Linked DNA regions of Homo sapiens. The protein of the gene in region 1 interacts with the protein of each later gene in a pairwise test. Each region holds a gene or a part of one and is shown in the gene's direction. Other genes may lie near its edges. The genes, in order: RNF138, TSTD2 and FXN.

Region 1 (7,111 bases):
TATCCTTTGGGTCATTGACCTAATGGGCCTCATTGTAGTTTTTAGCACTCCCCAAAATTCCGTGTAGATTGCTCTAGTCCGCTTCCCTTGTGGGACATTTTAAATCAAGGTTTATAATTTGATTTGACCTCAAGACTGTGGAAAATGTTGGAGATGATTGTTTTTAATTCAGGACCTTTCTCAAATCAACTTATTGTACGTAGACAGTTCTGCCTGAACAATGAATTAAAAGAATAGGCAGAGGGAGAAAAAAAGTTTAATTTGGAAGAGGTGGTAATGGAGGAACAGGATTTTAATCAGTTGGAAGGAGTTTAGTGGGGGAATTGGAGAGAAATTTTAAAAATTATCGTTTTTTTTTGAGACATGGTCTTATTCTGTTGTCCAGGGTGGAGTGCAGTGGTGTGATCATGTTTCATTGCAGCCTTGACCTCCCCCGTTGGAGCAACCCTCCCGCCTCAGCCTCTCAAGTTGCTGGGACTACAGGAGCATGCCTCCATGCCTGACTAATTTTGTTTTCTTTTTTATAGAGACAGGGCCTCACTACGTTGCCCAGTCAGATCTTGAACTCCTGGGCTGAAGTCATCCTCCTGTCTTGGCCTCCAAAAGTGCTGGGATGACAGGCGTGAGGCATGGCACCTGACCTGTTTTTTAATTAACATAGTTATCTATGTCATTTGCTCTACCTTCTTCACAAAGGACAGACCTATGCCTTTAAAGAAATTTATATTTGGCTGCAAAATCAATTTTTGATTCACGAATAGAGAGTTGAAGTGATAAGGGCTTTGGGTTACTGTGGATCAGTTAGAAAATGAAAAATTTTAATTGCCATTTCAATGACAGGAAAGGATTTGACTACTGACTATCCTAGTAAAAGGAGCAAGTTCATTATCATTAGAATAACATTACTAAAATATAAACTCCCGTTTAATCCCCATTCATTCCCTGAAACTGCAGTTGTTGAATGCTCTTTGTCTGGTGCAGGGACTACTAAGTACTGTTTCTCTGGAGACTTAATAGTCCGCTGGAGAGACCTATAAATGAGTGTGATTGATATAGAAGAGATTTTATGTGAGCATCTAGAGCAGGTATCTAAATTAGCCTAAAGGATAGGGATAATTTCCTAGATGAAGTAATGCCTTAGGTCAGCGTTTGTATTCAGTGTTTGTGGGGAATGCCAGAGTCAAGGAGGGTACAGAGGATGAATGTGAGCTGGACTTTGAAGTTTGGCTGGAGCCAAAGACAGCGTAGTGGAGATGGAGCTTAGCGTTATTGGCAGGAACTTACTGTGTAAGCTAATTTGAGTGTTTTCCTGAAAACCTATTAAATAATTAGATAACCTAATGAATAATACTAGACCTAGTAAATAATTTTTGGCAGGGGAGCAGCGTGGTCACATTTCATTTTTAGAAAGTTTACCTTCATAGCAGGGTTTTCAGCTTGGTAGTGGTGAGACTAGTGAAGAGGTCGGTCATTCATTGATGTGTCAGGGAGAGAAATGATTAGAACCTGAACTAAGGAAATGATAGTAGGAATGGAGCAGAGAGACTCCTGACATTTTAAGGACAGTGTAAGATTTGATGACTGGGTTCAGTAGTTAAGTGTGTATACCATATGTAGATCTGGAATACATGGAGCTAAAGCTGTGGGTGTCGAAGTGGTCACCGAGTGAGGTATATAAATGGAAAGATTGAAGAGCACCTAGATAGAGCCAAGTGTTGGAGAATACTTACTTAAATATCGAGTGGAGAAAATTGCAGCCAGACAAGGAACGAACAGAAGGATAGGAAGAAAACCAGGAATAAAGTGAGAGTGGAAACTGAGGATTCAGATCATCTGCAAATGATTGTTAAGGAAGCAGTCAGCATTTTCAGAGGCCTTAGAGTGGTCAGATGTAATTTTGTTTTTGTTTTTGTTTTTTTTGAAATAGGGTCTCGCTCTGTTGCGAGGAGTGCAGTGGCATGATCATAGCTTACTGCAGCCTCGACCTCCCAGGCTCAAGAAATCTTCCCACCTCAACCTCCCAAGTAGCTAGCTGGGACTACAGGCACTCACCACCATGCCTGGCTATTAAAAAAAATTTTTTTGTAGAGATGGGTCTTGCTTTGTTGCCCAACCTAGTCTCTAACTCCTGGGTGCAAACCGTCCTCCTGCCTCAGCCTCCCAAAGTGCTGGGATTACAGGCAAGAGCCTCCACACCTGGCAGATGTAATATTTTGAAAAACATGTTAAGACAAATTAATATGAAAGTTGAGCAGGTAGTCAAAGCAAGGCTTCAGAAGAAAGTACAGACTGGCGTAGGAGTAAGGTGTTTATCTCTTTTGGTGTTTTATTCTGTAATCTTCAAAGGCTCTTGGAAACCTCTGTTCTTCCTTGTTTTGAACAGTCAAGGAAATAATTCTTGTACATGGCAGAAGTAAGCTACTATTGCAATAAAAATTACATATAACAAGTTTGATTCTTTGCTGAACTCTTAAAAATGGAAATCTAATCTGTTTTTGCTTTTAGGCCTCTCTGTAAGGAGGCATCTTTTAAAATGAACTTCTACTTCTTGTTAAGCACAAATTTGTGTAATTTCCTATTTGACCAGCTTGAACATCCAGTTCCTGAGTTTTTAGTTCATATTTACTTTTTTTAATCCTTAATTTTAAAACAATTTTAAATTAATTATTTATTTTTGAGACCGAGTCTCTGTTGCCCAGGCTGGAGTGCAGTGGTGGGATCTTGGTTTACTGTAACCTCCACCTCCTGGATTTAAGCGATTCTCCTGCCTCGTCCTCCTGAGTAGCTGGGACTACAGGCACAACAAGTAGCTGGACTACAGGCATGCACCACCATGCTCGGCTAATTTTTGTTTTTTGTTTTTTTGTATTTTTAGTAGAGATGAGGTTTCACTATATTGGCCAGGCTGGTCTCGAACCCCTGCGCTCAAGTGATCTGCCCGCCTTGGCCTCCGAAAGTGCTGGGATTATAGGCATGAGCCACTATCCTCGGCCTAATTAATTAATTTAGAAACAGGGTCTCACTCTGTTGCTCGGGCTATATATATGTATATATGTGTATGTATATGTGTATGTATGTGTATTTGTGTGTGTGTGTGTATATGTGTATGTATATATGTGTGTGTGTGTGTGTGTGTGTGTGTGTGTGTTATTTTTGTTTGTTTGTTTGTTTGTTTTGAGACAGTCTCACTGTGTTGCCCAGGCTGGATTGCAGTGGTGCGGTCTTGGCTCACTGCAACCTCCCACCTCCCTGGTTCAAGCGATTCTACTCCCTCAGCCTCCCAAGTAGTTGGGATTACAGGCGTGCACCATCACGCCCTGCTAATTTTTTGTATTTTTAGTAGAGACAGGGTTTTACCATGTTGGCCAGGCTGGTTTTGAACTCCAGGCTGGTTTTGAACTCCTGACCTCAAGTGATCCTCTTGCCTTGGCCTCCCAAAGTGCTAGGATTACAGGTGTGAGCCACTGCGCCCACAATATATTTCTTATAGTTTAAATTTTTTAGAGATGGGGTCTTGCTTTGTTGCTCAGGCTGGTCTCAAACTCCTGGTCTCAAGCAGTCCTCCCACCTGAGCCTCCTGAGTAGTGGGGACTACAGGTGAGTGCCACAGCACCTGGCTTTGTAATTTTAACAGCTTTATTGGTATCTTGTTACTTGAGTAGTTATGCTCTAAGTATATACTTTAAAATAATTTTCTTCTTTCCTAAAATCTGTGCTATTTAATTATATAATAAAGGTTGAGGCCGGGCGCAGTGGCTCACGCCTGTCATCCCAGCACTTTGGGAGGCCGAGGCAGGCGGATCACAAGGTCAGGAGATCGAGACCATCCTGGCTAACACAGTGAAACCCTGTCTCTACTAAAAATACAAAAAAATTAGCCGGGTGTGGCGGCAGGCGCCTGTAATCCCAGCTGTTCGGGAGGCTGAGGCAGGAGAATGGCATGAACCCGGGAGGTGGAGCTTGCAGTGAGCTGAGATGGTGCCACTGCACTCCAGCCCGGGCGACAGAGTGAGACTCCGTTTCAAAAAAAAAAAAAAAAAGATTTACTTAATTTTAAATCTTGAGGACTAGTTTACAACCTTTGATTTTTTTTTTTTTTGAAGTTTTTTTGGGGAATGATCTCGATTATCGACTCGGAAAATAGATAGACTAAGTGCCAGATTTTAAATTATTTAATTTATACTGAAATTGGGAGCATGATGAGTGGGAATATTGTTTTTCCTCTCCCAGTGTTGTTGATTAGCCTTTTGTTGGGAGAATGCGTAATGGAAATTCGTCTAGCATCTGCTAGTTTAAAGTTGAGAGAAATGTAAAGAGACCTTTTTTGGTTATAGGGTAATGCCCTGTTCTGAAGATACGGGCCTTTTCAGGAACATGAAAATTAGTTTTAGTAATTCTTGATTTGTACCTTTTTCCTTCCTACTTCTGCTTTGTTTTGAAATAAGTTCTGTCTAGCACTTTGATCCATTCCAGCCCAAAGTGAGATGAGAATAATTCGTTTTATGTCTGAAGAAACATGCTTGGTTGTACAGAGGAAGGAACAGTAAAATTGGAGATAAGAGACCTGAATATCTCTATTTTATTTTATTTTTAGACAAAATCTCGCTCTGTTGCCCAGACTGGAGTGCAGTGGTGCAGTCTTGGCTCACCGCAACCTCCACCCATTGGGTTCAAGAGATTCTCCTGCCCCAATCTCCCGTGTAGCTGGAACTACAGGCATGCACCACTATACCCGGCTAATTTTTTTGTATTTTTAGTAGAGATGGTGTTGCACCATGTTGGTCAGGCTGGTCTCCAACTCCTGACCCCAAATGATCTGCCCCGCCTCGGCCTCCCAAAGTGCTAGGATTACAGGTGTGAGCCACTGCACCCGGCCATTCTTTGTACCTGTTATCACAGTTTGTAATCATAACATTTTTGGAATCAGATAATTTGACCAATGTCAGTTTCACTGGTTAGGCTGCAAGCTTTATAAAGAAAGCATCCAAGATCTCCTGTTACTTACTTAAGCCTACTAATATATCGTTTCACATATGAGAGTTTTTCCTGCCAGCTAAATTCTGACAAATGGAATTGCTGGGTCAAAGGGTAGATACAAACAAATATTTCTGATACATCACACAAGAATAATTGCAGCTCTAGTGAAGTGTCTTGTTCATGGAAAGTGCTCAAGGTTTTGATTTGAGAACTGTCAATTATATCTTTTGGTTAAGGGATTTAATACTTTTTAAATTAAGGTAAATTGGCATTCATTGCTTTAGCAAATATTAGGACTGCCTAATAGGTGCCTAGCACTGTTAGGTGCCAGGGATATTGTAAAGAGCAAATAGATAGGATCCCTGCCCTCTTGGAGCTGGGTGTTAGTGATTGAGATATATATATATATATATATAAAATCTTTGGTTGTACAGGGGAAGGAACAGTAAAATTGGACATAAGAGACCTGAATACCTCTATTTTATTATTTTATATATATATTTGAGACAGGGTCTTTCTCTGTTGCTCTGTTGCCCAGGCTAGAGTGCAGTGGCATGATCATGGCTCACTGCAGCCTTGACCTCTCTGGGCTCAAGTAATCCCCCTTTAGCCTTCCCAGTAGCTGGGACTACAGGCATGTGCCACCACCACACCCAACTAACTTTTTTTTTTTTTTTTTTTTTTTTGAGACGGAGTTTTGCTCTTGTTGGCCAGGCTGGAGTGCAATGGCGCGATCTCGGCTCACTGCAACCTCCGTCTCCCGGGTTTAAGCGATTTTCCTGCCTCAGCCTCCCAAGTAGCTGGGATTAAAGGCATGCGCCACCAGGCCTGGCTAATTTTGTATTTTTAATAGAGACGGGGGTTTCACCATGTTGGTCAGGCTGGTCTCGAACTCCCAACCTCAGGTGATCCACCCACCTCGGCCTACCAAAGTGTTGGGATTACAGGCGTGAGCCCCCGCGCCCGGCCTGTATTTTTTGTATAGACTGGGTTTCACCATGTTGGCCGGGCTGGTCTCGAATGCCTGAGCTCAAGCGATCTGCTCGCCTTGGCCTCCCAGAGTGCTGGGATCACAGGCCTGAGCCACTGCGCCTGGCCTGAGATATATTTAAATTAAAATAAATGCTCAGAAAAATGGTGTAATTACAAATGTATAGGTTTCGAGAGAGTATAAGAGAGGGATCAGATCTAGTGGGTGAGTATCGATGACCCTTTCTTTAGGAAGTGATATTGTTGCTGATATCTAAGAGAGATATAGGTATTAATTTGTGGAGGGCTGTGCTCGTGCATAGAACATTCTGGGGAGAAGAAACATTCTGGACAAAGGTCCCGAGGTAGGAGGGAACATGCAGGGCTTTGTATTTGAATGACAGAAACATCTTCTGGGCTTCAACCTCTTATAGGTTTCTTTTTTTTTTTTTTTTCAAAGACAGAGTCTGGCTCTGTTGTCCAGGCTGGAGTGCAGTGGCACACGCAGTCTTGGCTCACTGTAACCTCCGCCTCCTAGGTTCAAGCCATTCTTCTACCTCAGTCTTCTGAGTAGCTGGGATTACAGGCGTGCACCACCACTCCTGGCTAATTTTTGTGTATATATATATATTTTTAAATTAGAGTCAGGGTTTCACCATGTTGGCCAGATTGGTCTTGAACTCCTGACCTCAAGTGATTTGCCTGCCTCACTCTTACAGGTTTATTAACATTTTATTTTTTTAAGCCTTAGTTTCCTCATCTGTAAAATGAAGGAACTTATTAAGAAAAATTTATTTTTTTTTAAGAATTCAAGATCATGAATGGATAGTTTCTGGGATCCAGCCTAGCACCTAGCACATATTATGTACGCAATAAGTGTTAACTGCTATTTTCATAAATGTCATGTTGCTTTCCCAAAAATTGAGCTAATTTACAAAATGCCATTAGTACTATAAAAGTATATTTGTAATCCATCATCTTTGCCAATTTTGTTTTTTTAAGCATTTTTATGCTATTTTAATACAGTTCATAGTGGTGTCTAGAAGTCACATTAAAATGTATTTCTTTAGTTGCTAGCAAGGCTGCATGCATTTTTCCATATTACATTTTTGCTTGTTTGAGACAGGGTCTAACTCTGTTGCCCAGGCTGGAGTGCAGGGGCATA
Region 2 (7,111 bases), on another chromosome or scaffold:
TAATGATCCTAAAAGGTGAATCAAATCACATCACTCCCTCCTCAAACTCTTTCAGTGGCTGCCACTTCTGGTGCATATGGAGGAAATCCAGTGCCTTAAAAATGCCCTTAGGTTCCTGCGTGAGTTGGCCCCTTCTTACCTTTTCCTCTCGTCTGATACTGTTCTTTGCTCATTATACTCCAGCAACATGGTCTTTCAGTTTTTTGGAACCCACCGAGTTCTTTTCTCTCCTTGGGCCTTCTTACAAGCAAACTATCTTCAAGGAACTCTCCTACACCCACTCTGCTGCTCCAGTCTGATTTTTACTCAAGCTTAGTTTTCAATTTTCATGACACTTCCTCAAAGAGACCTTTCCTGTCAATCTAAATTCATTTTTCCCAGTGCACTCTCTCATGGCATCTTGTAATTGTTTTTCATAACATTTGTCCATTTGTAACTTTTATTTTAATATCTGTGACCTCCCATAGTCTGTAAGCTCCTAAAGGGGAAAAGCTATATTTTTTTCAAGCACTGTATCCCTAATTCCTAGCACAATTCCTGGTGTAAATAAATAAATAATATTTAATACTTTCATCACCATTCCTATTCAGAAAACTTCCACACCCTGAAAGATGGATACTCTCACAGTAAACCTGAATGTACAAGGTTTGAAAACAGCCTCTTGGTTTAGAGGCAGATCATTTTTCTTGGCCCAACCCAAGTGCTAAATTAGCAATGAGGGATCTTACCCACAAGGTGGCAGCACTTGCCTAGATCTTGGATATAAATTCCTAGGTGTCAAGGATACATGCCCAGTTTAATGAGAGTTTTGTGTTTGGAGATTTGGCAAAATATCAGTGCCTAAGTAGGGAAAGAGAAGAACCTGACAGTTGTAGAATTATGGGAAAAAAGCCTCTACTCTATTGCTGTGTATTCTTTATTGCCTCAAAAAATTTGAGGGGATACATTGAAGGCTTTGGAAAGGAAAAGTTATAAGATTGGGAGCTAGTAAGATCTGGTTTTGAATCCCAGATTTACCAGCTATCAGCTATACCACTGGGCAAGTTACTTGATTTCTCTGAGCTTTTGTTTCCTTTTCTGTAAAACGGGGATTATGATATCTGCCTTTCAGGATTATAATGTAATGCTTCTGTCTCATAGCAAGTGCTGAATAAATGCTAATGATTGTTCTTCTCAGTTTCTTACAAGGCCTTCCTCACTAAGGAGCTTTGAAGGATTTCTGTTAGAGAATCCTGGGGGTTCAAAGTCTAGTGCACGAGTTTAGAGCATGCTCTGCCCTAGCTATATAGGGAGCAGATGTGCTTGTCTTCTCTTTGGGTTCTGAGATTAAAATAAATTAGAAAAGAATCTACTAGCCTACCCCAAGAGAGGTACTTAGACATACATACTTCATCCTACCTGCTGTAGTCAGAAACTCTTTTGGAGTGGGTTTTCTGACTCTTACACTGATTGGGCTCTATTTTTCTATGTAGTCCACTATAAGTTGGTAGTGGGGACAGTAGCCTGTGTAGCAGAGATGTCACAGGCTTCCTGCTTCCCTCTCCCATGCCCAGAACTGGCTTCACTAGACTGCAGCACTGTTTCTCAAGGAGTCTGGATGTGACCCGGAATCTTTGTCATGGAACTCTGGAAAACATTTTACAGTACTATACGTAGAGGTGTGATTCCAAGCTTCTTAATTTTCTAGAACCTGCCAGGGTCATTTACCAGCTCAGGGTATTGACATTTGCTGTTTCCTTCCTCTCTAGAGTGCTCTTCCCTGCACCTTCACATGGCGCATACCCCACTTCAGATCTCGGCTCACATATTGTCTCCTTAGAGCTGCAGTCTGAAGTAGTCCTCTCCAGATCTTGTCACGTTCTATCCCTTTCTGCTTTTCAAAGAATTTATTACTATCTGAAAGTATAATCTTCATTTATAAGCTTCATGAGGACAGGAATTTTGGTCTTAATTGATGTATTCTCAGTGCTGGAACAGAGCTTAGCATGTAGTAGACCCTCAGTAGATATTTGGAGAATATAGAATGCATGTTCATGACAAAACCAGAAGTGCATGTATAAACATGGAAGGTTGTGTATACCAAAATGTTAGTAAGGATTATCTAGGCATGTAGGGTTATCGATGGTTTTTATTTTCCTAAAATATTCTCTGATCATATTACACACATGCATATGTTTGTGTCTTTTATGTTCTTTCAAAGTTTAAAATTATATACCACTTCCAATGAGTTGGCATTGGCTTGTGCCATGAATCTTGTTTTATATCCATACCCTAAAGAGTTGATCAGGTAGGGCTGGGTGCGATGGTTCATGCCTGTAATCCCAGCACTTTGGAAGGCCGAGGCAGGCAGGTCACAAGGTCAGGAGATTGAGACCATCCTGGCTAACACGGTGAAACCCCGTCTCTACTAAAAATATGAAAAATTAGCCGGGCGTGGTGGCGGGCACCTGTAGTCCCAGCTACTTGGGAGGCCGAGGCAGGAGAATGGTGTGAACCTGGGAGGCGGAGCTTGCAGTGAGCCGAGATTGCACCACTGCACTGCAGTCTGGGCGACACAGCGAGACTCTGTCTCAAAAAAAAAAAAAAAAAAAGAATTGATCAAGTGAGGCATCAACTGATGTGTCTTCTCTGGACCCTAAAAAAGGACAGCCATTAAAAATTTTCAAATTATGAAGTACTGGTATATATCAGTGTTATATGACTAGAACAATATAGGACCTTGAATTAAATCATCTCTTTTTCCAGACAGTGCCATGATGCCACATGTGCTGCCCTTGCTAGCACTTTTCTTTAGAGAGCTCAGTTCCCTTTAAAGATGATCCATCTTTAAACTCATCCACAGGATTTTGTAGTACGAAAACAACCAACTCTGCAGGGCCCCCAGAACACTGCCTCTTAAGGCTGGGGCTTTACCCCAGGCTCTAATGTCCCCTAACCAGGGGAGCATTTCAAAGAGAATATGGGACTTGAGATGCCAAAGAGCCCCAGATATGGATGCATATTCATTTATTCAACAAATCGTATTGAGTGCCTACTATGTGGCAGGCACTGTTCTAGGGGATATGCTGGTGAGCAAAACAGACACACACCCATGTGGAACTTGTATTCCAGTGGATGGTTTGCAGTGGTAGGCTGTCCTCCAAACACCATGCAGAGATACATGCTCATGTATACCCTCAGCCCTCAGATGTACTCTGTGCTTTAGGATTTTGGTAGTATCTCCTCAGCAGTTCTTTTCATTTCTGGTGCTCTTTAGTTCCCTTTTTATTCATATAAAGAAATTAAGATTCAGAGAAGTCAATTAACTTTCTCACAGCTACATGCAAGTGAGTGGCAGAGCTTAATCTTGAGCCTAGATCTGCTGACCTCTGTGGAGGACTCTGTTAAGCTACCTGGATTTAGATTAAGCTCAGAATTCACTTCTTTGGCTGTTGGACTATTGTAGCTCCATAGCAAATGGGGCTTTCCAGGAGTTTTATTCACATTCTTTTGTTCAGCATGCATGAAACAGAATACCTCATCTGAACTGAAGGCTATGCCATTTTAGAAAAATACAAGTATCCAGCTGGGCACGGTGGCTTGTGCCTGTAATCCCAGCACTTTGGGAGGCCAAGGCGGGTAGATCACTTGAGGCCAGGAGTTGGAGACCAGCCTGGCCAACATGGCGAAACCCCGTCTCTACTAAAAATACGAACATTAGCTGGGCTTGGTGGCGCATGCCTGTAATCCCAGCTACTCAGGAGGCTGAGGTAGGAGAATCGCTTGAACCCAGGAGGTGGAGGCTGCAGTGAGCCGAGATTGTGCTATTGCACTCCAGCCTGGGCAACAGAGCAAGACTCTGTCTTAAAAAACAAACAGGTATCCATCTCACACCTGTCAGAATGGCTGTTATTAAAAAGTCAAAAAATAACAGATGCTGGTGAGGTTGTAGAGAAAAAGGAATACTTATACACTATAGGTGGGAGTGTAAATTAGCTCAACCGTTGTGGAAGACAATGTGGTAATTCCTCAAAGACCTAAAGACAGAACTATCATTCGACCCAGCAATCCCATTACTGGGTATGTACCCAAAAGAATATAAATTGTTCTGTTATAAAGACACATGTATGCATATGTTCATTGCAGCACTGTTCACAGTAGCAAAGACATGGAATCAACCTAATGCCCATCAGTGATAAACTGGATAAAGAAAATGTGGGAATACTATGCAGCTATAAAAAAGAACAAGATCATGTCTTTTGCAGGGACATGGATGGAGCTGGGAGCCATTATCCTTAGCAAACTAACGCAGGAAGAGAAAACCAAATACTACATATTTTCACTTATAAGTGGGAGCTAAATTATGAGAACGTGGACACATAGAGGGGAACAACAGACACTGGGGCCTTTTGGAGGGTGGAGGGTGGAAGGAGGGAGAGGATCAGGAGCATAACTAAGGGGTACTAAGCTTAATACCTGGGTGGTGAAATAATCTGCACAATAAACCCCCATGACACAGTTTTACCTGCAGAGCAAACCTGCACTTGTATCCCTGGACTTAAAAGTTTAAAATAAAAAAGAAAAACACAGATATCTTTGTCCAGTAACACTTTGGTGTCCTCATCAGCGTCTCTGCTTTTCCTGTTAAACTCATTGACACACATGAGCCTATTGTTCTTCCCTGGAAAGATAACCAAGCTAAGAACAATCTGTTCTCTTTTTCACCGTCTTGTGTCTCAGATTCGAATTGCTGCAGAAGGAATCAATGGGACAGTTGGTGGAAGCAAATTGGCTACCAGACTTTATGTGGAAGTCATGCTTTCCTTCCCATTGTTTAAGGATGACCTGTGTAAAGATGATTTTAAGGTAAGAGAAAATGAAAATTAAATGGATCTAGAGCCATCTGCTTCTGCCTCTGTGCATGTTATTGAAGAGGAGTTCAAAGTAGAGAAATAAGCAGTGCCAAATAAATACCCTTTCCCCTTTATTTTTTGGGGCTTGGGGAGTTTTTTTGTTTTGTTTTTTGACAGGGTCTTGCTCTGTCACCCAGGCTGGAGTGCAGTGGCGTGATCATGGCTCACTGCAGCCTCAACCTCCCTGGGCTCAGGTGATCCTCCCAGGTAGCTAGGACCATAGGCGTGCATCACCATGTCTGGCTAATTTTTTTGTAGAGACGGGGTCTCACTATGTTGCCCAGGCTGGTATGGAACTCTTGGGTTCAAGCAGTCCTCCCACGTCAGCCTCCTATAGTGCTGAGATATGGACGTGAGATACCGCACCTGCCCCCTTTCCCCTTTAAATGTGCTTTTCTCTTTAGGTTACGAGACAGTACAATAGAAGGAGTATGCTCGTCCCCATTCTTTCACTGAGTCACCATATGATTTTGGACCAGCTAGTGCTCTAGACCTCAGTATCCCTTCTTATAAAATAAGAATGTTACAGCTCATGCAATCTGGGACTCCAAATCTTGGACATATTAGCTCACTTGAGAGACCACCAGCCTGGTCAGCAGATCACTGTGTTTTTAGTAAATCTGGAATTGTAAGATTAACACTTCATACCACATGGGGGAATAAAGTTGTTGCTCTCACAGGTGGGCTGCTTTGTTTGAGTGACTTTATACCTTGTCATAATAAGTGATAAGGTGATGGGAAATGCCTTGCTAGCGTTCATGCTGGCAATGATAGGAAAAGAATGAAAACCGGGTATAGTCACATGTTAGAATTGCTCAGCGGTGTTGCAGTTTTATAATTAAATGCTTACACCTAAAGAAACACTTTTTCAGCTTAACATTCCTGCACATGGCAGGTATGCAGTAAGTATTTATCAATGTTGAATTATCTGGAACATTCTGGGCCCTAACTAGAGGTTTTTTAAGACTTCAGCTATTGTTATTACAAAACAGACCATCATTCTTATATTGGCACTTGTCTTATACCTGGAGATGGGACAGCAAGACTGTATTCTGTTTTGTTTCTCATTGGCTAGACCAGCAAAGGAGGAGCTCACTGTTTTCCAGAATTGCGTGTTGGTGTATTTGAAGAAATCGTGCCCATGGGGATCAGCCCCAAAAAGATCTCCTACAAGAAGCCTGGTATGCTTGCTTTTAGAAGATTGTGCTTTAATTCACAGGGACAAAACTTAATAGACAAATAAGAAAGCTAGGCACTGTGATCAGCAGCAGTCATGAGTCCTCTCTAAAGCAGCTGTGGGGTGGCTAACACTTGGCTGCATCCAGTGCTTATACTGTTTCTCTGTGGTGCTGTGGGGTTGAAGACTCACCTCTTCGAGTGACCTATCTTATTCCTCTTGGTGATGGTTTATCAATTAGTTGTTTGCTCTTTCCAAAGACAGCAAGCAGTTTGGGAAGAGTGTAATTATTACTTGTAAACAGTTCATTAGCAGAATAGAGCAAATAGGCCTTTTGCTACAGGAAACAAGTTGCTTTCAACACCACAGCAGTTTTCACTGTGCTCTAGAATGTTCTTTCCCCATCTTCTCCATGGTAAATGGTTGAAAGACATTTGTTTGGCAGGTTTTTGGGGGTTTTATTGTAGTTTTTACTATGAAAAATTTTAAACATTAAAAAAGTAGAGAAAATAATATAGTGAAGTTCTATGTACCTATCATGCAGCTTTAGCAGTTAACTGATTAATGGCCAGCTCTCACCTATACCCCATCCCTTCTCCCATCTTGGATTATTTTGAAAGCAACCCCAATGTCAGGCCATTTCATTTGTAAATATTTTTAGTAGGTATGTCTAAAAGATAAAAATTTGTTTTAAAAGATGCAAAACGATATCACATCTTAAAACATTTTAACTGATTCCTTAATAAATTATCAAATATCTAGTTGGTTTAGTCACTCAATTCCCGGTTGTCTCATACTTTTTAAGCTTCATTTCTATTAGGATTTAAATAAGGTTCATTCACTGTGATTCATCAGTATGTCTCTTTAAGTGTCTTTCAACCTATAGATTTGTTTCCATCTTTTTTTCCCCCCTTGCAGTTTATTTTTGAAGGAACTGGATCATTTGACCTTTAGAGTTTCCCATAATCTGGACAATAATAATTGTATTCCCAAGATATATTTCTCTGTCCTCTTTATTTCCTATAAGTTGATCATTAGATTT
Region 3 (7,111 bases), on another chromosome or scaffold:
CCCGTCACCACGCCCGGCTAATTTTTTGTATTTTCAGTAGAGACGGGGTTTCACCATGTTAGCCAGGATGGTCTCGATCTCCTGACCGTGTTATCTGCCTGCCTCGGCCTCCCAGAGTGCTGGGATTACAGGCATGAGCTACCACGCCCGGCCTTTAAATTTTTACTTTGGGCCGGGCACGGTGCCTTACGCCTGTAATCCTAACATTTCGAGAAGCTGAGGCACGTGGTGGATCACTTGATGTCACGAGTTCAGACCAGCCACTGCACTCCAGCCTGGGTGACAGAGTGAGACTCTGTCTCAAAAAAAAAAAAAAAAGAAAGAAAAACTTTTACTTTTTACATGTTATTTTCATCAATTTAATGAATTTAAATAACAAATGTATAAATTTGATATTAATAAAATGGAAGCATTTGGTAATCATGTTTTGGGTTTTGTGCTTCCTCTGCAGCTCTCTAGATGAGACCACCTATGAAAGACTAGCAGAGGAAACGCTGGACTCTTTAGCAGAGTTTTTTGAAGACCTTGCAGACAAGCCATACACGTTTGAGGACTATGATGTCTCCTTTGGGGTACCTCTTGACTTCTTTTATTTTTCTGTTTCCCCCTCTAAGAATTTTAGTTCACTAAAATGAAGAATTTCCCTCCAGCAGAGCTAAGCATCAAGTAGCATGTAGTTGTAGGTAGGATTAAAAGACTAGGGTTCCGGGAGGTGAAGGTTGCAGTGAGCCAAAATCACGCCACTGCACTCCAGCCTGGGTGACAGAGCGAGACTCTGTCATAGATGGATGGATGGATGGATGGATGGATGGATGGATGGATAGATAGATAGATAGATAGATAGATAGCTGGATAGATAGATAAGATAGATAAGACAAGACTAGGCTTCAAGCTGCAGTCCAGCTCTACCAGGCTTGTTGTGACTCTGGGCAAGTCACTCAGCCTCTCTGAGCCTCATTTTCCAGCTTCAGTGGATACCCATGAAGGCAAATCAGAGAGGGGCCTGAGTGTGTATTTGTCCAGCAGGCAGATGGAGGGAACAACAAACTAGACCCGTAGTTCTTCAGTAGGGATAAGATAACTGCCCAAAAGTTATTTAGATTACAAAGACTTGAGCCCTGCTCCTGTGAGACAGTGATGGGGTAGGTCGGGTGCATTCCTGGGAAGCATATTTTTGAAAAGCTCACCTGGGATTCTAATGTGTATCCCTAGGTCTTATTCCTAGAGATTTTGATTACTTGGTCTGGGGTGTGGCATGACCTGGGCAGGGCACTGGGATTTTTAAGCTCCACAGATGATTCCAATATGCAGCTAGTATGAGAACTTGTTTTTTTTTGAAGGAGTCTCACTCTGTCACCCAGGCTGGAGTGCAGTGGCGCAATCTCGGCTCACTGCTCCGCTTCCTGGGTTCAAGCAGTTCTCCTGCCTCAGCCTCCCGAGTAGCTGGGATTATAGGCATCTGCCACCATGCCCAGCTAATTTTTGCATTTTAGTAAAGACGGGGTTTCACCATGTTGGTTAGGCTGGTCTCGATCTCCTGACCTCAAATGGTCCACCCCCATCAGCCTTCCAAAGTTTTGGGATAACAGGCGTGAGCCACCAGGTCCGGCCTGGTGTGAGAACTTCTGAGTTGGATGAAACATTAGCCCCAGATCCTAGAAGCCAGGGAAGTGCTGGTCTTTATCGACTGGCCACCAGGTGGCAGATTTGGGCAAGGGTCTGCCTTTGGGTTTAGAATTATTGCTTAGGCCTTAAAGTAGTTCTTTTTTGCCAGTGGGAGAAAATCCCTCAAAGATGGTTTTCTGGGTTGGTTGGTTTGTTTGTCTGTTTGTTTGTTTTTTGAGACAGAGTCTCCCTCTGTTATTCAGCCTGGAGTGCAGTGGCATGATCTCACTGCAACCTCTGCCTCTCGGGTTCAAGCAGTTCTCCTGCCTCAACCTCCCAAGTAGCTGGAATTATAGGCACACGCCCCCACACCCAGCTAATTTTTGTATTTTTAGTAGAGACAGTGTTTCACCACGTTGGCCAGGCTGGTTTTGAACTCCTGAACTCAAGTAATCCTCCCACCTCAGCCTCCCAAAGTGCTAGGATTACAGGTGTGAGCCACCGCGCCTGGCTCCTCAAAGATGTTAATCCTCTTGATGGCAATTGACTAATACCAGAAAATGTCACGAAGCGTGCATTTTGGATTCAATCATGGAATTGTTGAGGACAATCAGCCATCAGACTAAAGCGATAGAAATAGTATTGGAAATTGCAGCGGGAGCACTGAATGGAGAAGGCACTCCACATAATGGAGGAGGCAACCAAGTCTTAGAGAAGGTATCAAGCCTGACTATAAGGACAGTGAGGGAATTGAAAAAACAAAAAAGGAGCAATGGAGCAGGGAAGGATTGAATGCCTTTCAAGTAGATTCAGTAATTGCTGTTAGCAGCAAAAAATGCAGTAGTGCCTGGGCAGGGCTTTAAAGTGCTTGCACAGGCAGCCCTAGAGGGCCGGGCTGCTTGGGAACTCTTACAAACTGACCTACCAACTTGAGCATCCACAGCCTGATCAGAGGTGGGGGAGTTAAGGGCCTTCTCTCCCCTAGCCTCTACTAGAGCCTGTAACTGCAGGGAAACCAAGTTGCAGGCTAAACTCTGCCCACACATGCAGACATTGATTAGCAAGCTACAAAAACAGTCATGAAACCTGTTTTTATAGGATTAGTGAAGCCCCAGTTTGACCAGAGTACTTTGCATGAATGTTTTGTTAGAAGCAAATGTGCCAATATTCTAGCAGCTGCGTTTGGTTTACTTCTTCTTCTTCTTTTTTTTTTTTTTTGAGTTGAAGCCTAGCTCTGTCACCCAGGCTGGAGTGCAGTTGTGTGATCTCAGCTCACTGCAACCTCTGCCTCCCAGGTTCAAGCGATTCTCCCGCCTCAACCTCCTGAGTAGCTGGGATTACAGACATGTACCACAATACAGGGCTAAGTTTTGTATTTTTAGTAGAAATGGGGTTTCACCATGTTGGCCAGGCTGGTCTCAAACTCCTGATCTCAAGTGATCCACCCGCCTCAGCCTCCTAAAGTGCTGGGTTAACAGGCATGAGCCACGGCACCTGGCAAAAGTCATCTTTTGGTTTACTTCTATTGAACTGAAAAAGTCACAAATATATTTATATTTAATTAAATATATTTATATAAAAATATGGTATTTAGTATTATTATTTTTAGAGACAGGGCCTCGCTCTGTCACCCAGGCTGGAGTGCAGTGGCACAATCATAGCTCACTGCAGCCTCAAGCTTCTGGGCTCAAGTGATCGTTCCACCTCAGCCTCCCTAGTAGCTGGGACTACAGGCACATGCCACCATACTCGGCTAATTATTTTATTTTATTTATGGGTCTCGCTATGTTTCCCAGGCTGGTCTCAAACTCCTGGCCTCAAGCGATTCTCTCACCTCGGCCTCCCAAAGCACCGGGATTACAGGTGTGTGCCAGCACACCCAGCCACAAATCTATAAATTTAGAAAGGAGGACTATTTCTAAAGAGGGTCCCACTACCTGTAGGCAGGAAGCAGAGCCTCTGGCCATAACTGAAAAACAAGCACTTCCAAGAAGGGGCAAAGGGAACATGAATTTATGCTGAGAGGCGTAGCTAAGCATACATATTCAACAGATTATGGGAGGATCTATGAATATTCACAAAGGGAGGATCTATGAATATGCACACATGTGGAGTAAGCTAACGTGTGCAGCATGTCTCCCATGTTCACCTTAGGCAGAAACTTAACACTAACATGTATTACAGGGCAACAAAATGAGACTGCATATCTACATAACCTAGCTATTTGGTAGGCTGAAGCAGGAGCATCACTTAAGACTGGGAGTTCGAGGCAGCTGTGAGCCATGATCGCACCACTGTTCTCCAGCCAGGATGACAGGGCAAGACCCTGTCTTAGACCACTCTGTGGTCAGTGGTTATCAGGAAGGAATGCTAGTCAGTTGTGCTGAAACCACTAAAAAGGAAGGGCAGAATTAGGTGATGAGTTGATACCAGTGGTGAAGTGAGTCTTTTTTTTTTTTTTCTTTTTGAGATGGAGTCTTGCTCTGTTGCCCAGGCTGGAGTGTAGTGGTGTGATCTCAGCTCATCGCAACCTCCACCTCCTGGGTTCAAGTGATTCTCTTGCCTCAGCCTCCCGAGTAGCTGGGATTACAGGCGCCTGCCACCACGCCTGGCTAATTTTTTTATATTTTTAGTAGAGACTGGGTTTTGCCATGTTGTCAGGCTAGTCTTGAACTCCTGACCTCAGGTAATCCAACTGCTTTGGCCTCCCAAAGTGCTGGGATTACAGGCAGCTCCAAAGTGCTGGGATTACAGGCATGAGCCACCATGCATGGCCTGAAATAATTTTTTTGAAAGGGCTAGTTTCTATTTAGCCCTTAGGGGAAAAAAAACTAATGGCAGTTAGGGAGGGAATAGAACGAGTCCTGTTTGAACTCCTTTCCCATCATGGCCAAAACTTAAAATTTTTTTTAGATATCTCTGGGCTCCCCTTGGCCAAAAGATAGTTTGTTGAGTCAGTTGGGAGCTTAGAATTTTGTTTTTATTTCTCACATCATTGAATCAATTTGAACCAGGCGACAAAACCTTCTGCTCCCAGTAGTGGGTCAGAGAACCTTCCTGATTCCTGCCCTGAGATTGTCTCTCTGAAGACAACATTAGGCTAGTAGGCTTTCCAGATTCTGTAACCCATTCTTTCAAAGGAAGAGATGCCTATATTTTTCTAGCCAATTCATATACCTTGAGTATCACTCAAGGGCAAAATTATTTCTAACAAATCATTTACTAATTAGCAAATGCTTAAGTGTAGATTTAGAAAGCTAAAGCTATACAGTGGCTGCCATCTATAGTTTGGACTTGTGATTAACTACATTGAAATGCTAACTCTGTACCCTAGAGTATGAATTCCTGATTAGAGTCCTTCAGGTGCTAACTAATTTATGTATTTCATGTTTGATAATATTATTACTTGAGCTTTGTGGGAGAGCAGTCTTTTCCTCCCCTGAGATATAGCTAGAAGTTACCTCCTTTGTGAAGCCTTCCTAGATACTCCAAGCAGACACGGTCCTTCCTTTCTCCCTTGCCCAGCACTCTGAGGTTGACTCTGTGGAGCACTGATCCCTCTGTGTTATAATTGTCTATTTACACGTCAGCTACCACCTATAACACACTGAGTTCCTCAACAGCAGGGACACTGTCCATTCTTTGATCCCAGTGTCTGGAACAGTGCCAAGTACATAGTAGGGACTTAATAAATATTGATTCATATGTAAATGAGACTTTTCCAAAACATGCTTTCGTTGATGCCTCTCAGCATTTATACACCTTTTACCAACTCGCTACTGGCCACATAGACAAATGAAAGCAGTAATCCAGATACACCCAAGAGGACATCTGTTCTTTTTTCTCTCTGTGGAGTGGGAGACTTAAGTGGCTTCTTAACTGGTGTGTCGTCTGATCAAGTGGTCCAGGTAACAGGTGGATGCCAATGTCTGGCCCAGGCATCACCCCTTACTGGCACTGGTCATTACAGAAGACACTCTACCAGAGCTGAAAGGACCTCTTGTCACTAGGCAGCTGTGGAGTCCGCTCTACTTGACCTAGTAAAATCTGCCTGGAGACTGTTAGAGTCACCCCACTACCTGAAGTTACCTCCAGGCTGACCTCTTTTTTTTCCCAGGTGGAGTCCTGGCATCTTAGATATTTTAATAAGGATTTGCTTGTTGACATGTTCTTTATTCACTAAGGTGTCAGCATATTACTGTCTTAGAACTGAGGGTTCTTCATCTTTTTTGGATCAGGACCTCCCTCTAAGAATCTGATGACTGCTCTGGTCCCTCTCCCAATAAAAACTTCCATACTCACCTGTTAAAAAAAAAAAAAACTTTAAACAAATTAACAGAGTTTTATTCAGCAAAGAATGATTCATAAATCGGGAAGGCTGCAACCAGAATAGGTTCAGAGAGACTCCACGGTGTGCCACGTGGTTGGAGAGGATTTAGGATTTATGCACAGAAAAAGGAAAGTGACATGCAGAAAATGAAAGTGAGGGCCTGGTGCTGGTGCGGTGCCTCACGCCTGTAATCCCAGCACTTTGGGAGGCCGAGGCGGGCAGATCATGAGGTCAGGAGATCGAGACCATCCTGGCTAACACGGTGAAACCCTGTCTCTACTAAAAATGCAAAAACTTAGCCGGGCGTGGTGGCAGGCACCTGTAGTCCCAGCTACTTGGGAGGCTGAGGCAGGAGAATGGTGTGAACCTGGGAGGCGGAGCTTGCAGTGAGCCAGGATCCCGCCACTGCACTCCAGCCTGGGCGACAGAGCGAGACTTCATCTTAAAAAAAAAGAAAAGAAAAAGGAAAATGAAAGTGAGGTACAGAAACAGCCAGGTTGGTTACAGCTTGGTGTTTGCCTTAAACTTGGTTTGAACAGTTGGCCGCCTTTGATTAGCCAAAACTCGGTGATTGGTACAAGAGTAGATTGCAGTTCACTATGTACAGAGAAGCCCTTAGATCCGAACTCAAAATAGGTAAGGAGGCAGTTTTAGCTACACTTAAGTTAACATACTCAGGAGTACCATTCCAGCTTCAAGCTGGAAGTGTCTGCAGCCCCCTGAGACCACTTAATCCCAAGTTAAAAACCCCTGCTCAGAGGCAGCATCTTTTTTTTTTTTTTTTTTTTTTTTTTTGAGAGAGATCTCACTCTGTCACCCAGGCTGGAGTGCAGTGGCACGATCTCAGCTCACTGCAACCACCACCTCCTGGGCTCAAGGGATTCTCTTGCCTCAGTCTCCCGAGTAACTGGGATTACAGGCGCGTGCCACTATGTCCAGCTAATTTTTTTTTTTGTATTTTTAGTAGAGATGGGGTTTCACCATGTTGGCCTGGCTGGTCTTGAACTCTTGACCTCAAGTGATCCACTGGCCTCAGCCTCCCAAAGTGCTGGCATTAGAGGTGTGAGTCACTGTTCCTGGCCCAGTGAGGCACCATCTCATTGGATATGGAGACAAAGGATCTGGCTTAGCATCCTGGATTTGTATTTTCTTTCCAAGAGTCCTTAAGTGATATCT

The links.
Region 2: the proteins of RNF138 (region 1) and TSTD2 interact in binary tests that used the Homo sapiens proteins (3 or more experiments, as listed by UniProt).
Region 3: the proteins of RNF138 (region 1) and FXN interact in binary tests that used the Homo sapiens proteins (3 or more experiments, as listed by UniProt).

The regions. Positions count from the first base shown.
Region 1 is NC_000018.10:32,094,830-32,101,940, forward strand, and holds part of RNF138 (E3 ubiquitin-protein ligase RNF138), read left to right. Parts: intron 1-7,111. UniProt on the Homo sapiens protein: E3 ubiquitin-protein ligase involved in DNA damage response by promoting DNA resection and homologous recombination.
Region 2 is NC_000009.12:97,609,308-97,616,418, reverse strand, and holds part of TSTD2 (thiosulfate sulfurtransferase/rhodanese-like domain-containing protein 2), read left to right. Parts: intron 1-4,719; coding exon 4,720-4,845; intron 4,846-5,967; coding exon 5,968-6,073; intron 6,074-7,111.
Region 3 is NC_000009.12:69,052,689-69,059,799, forward strand, and holds part of FXN (frataxin, mitochondrial isoform 1 preproprotein), read left to right. Parts: intron 1-451; coding exon 452-572; intron 573-7,111.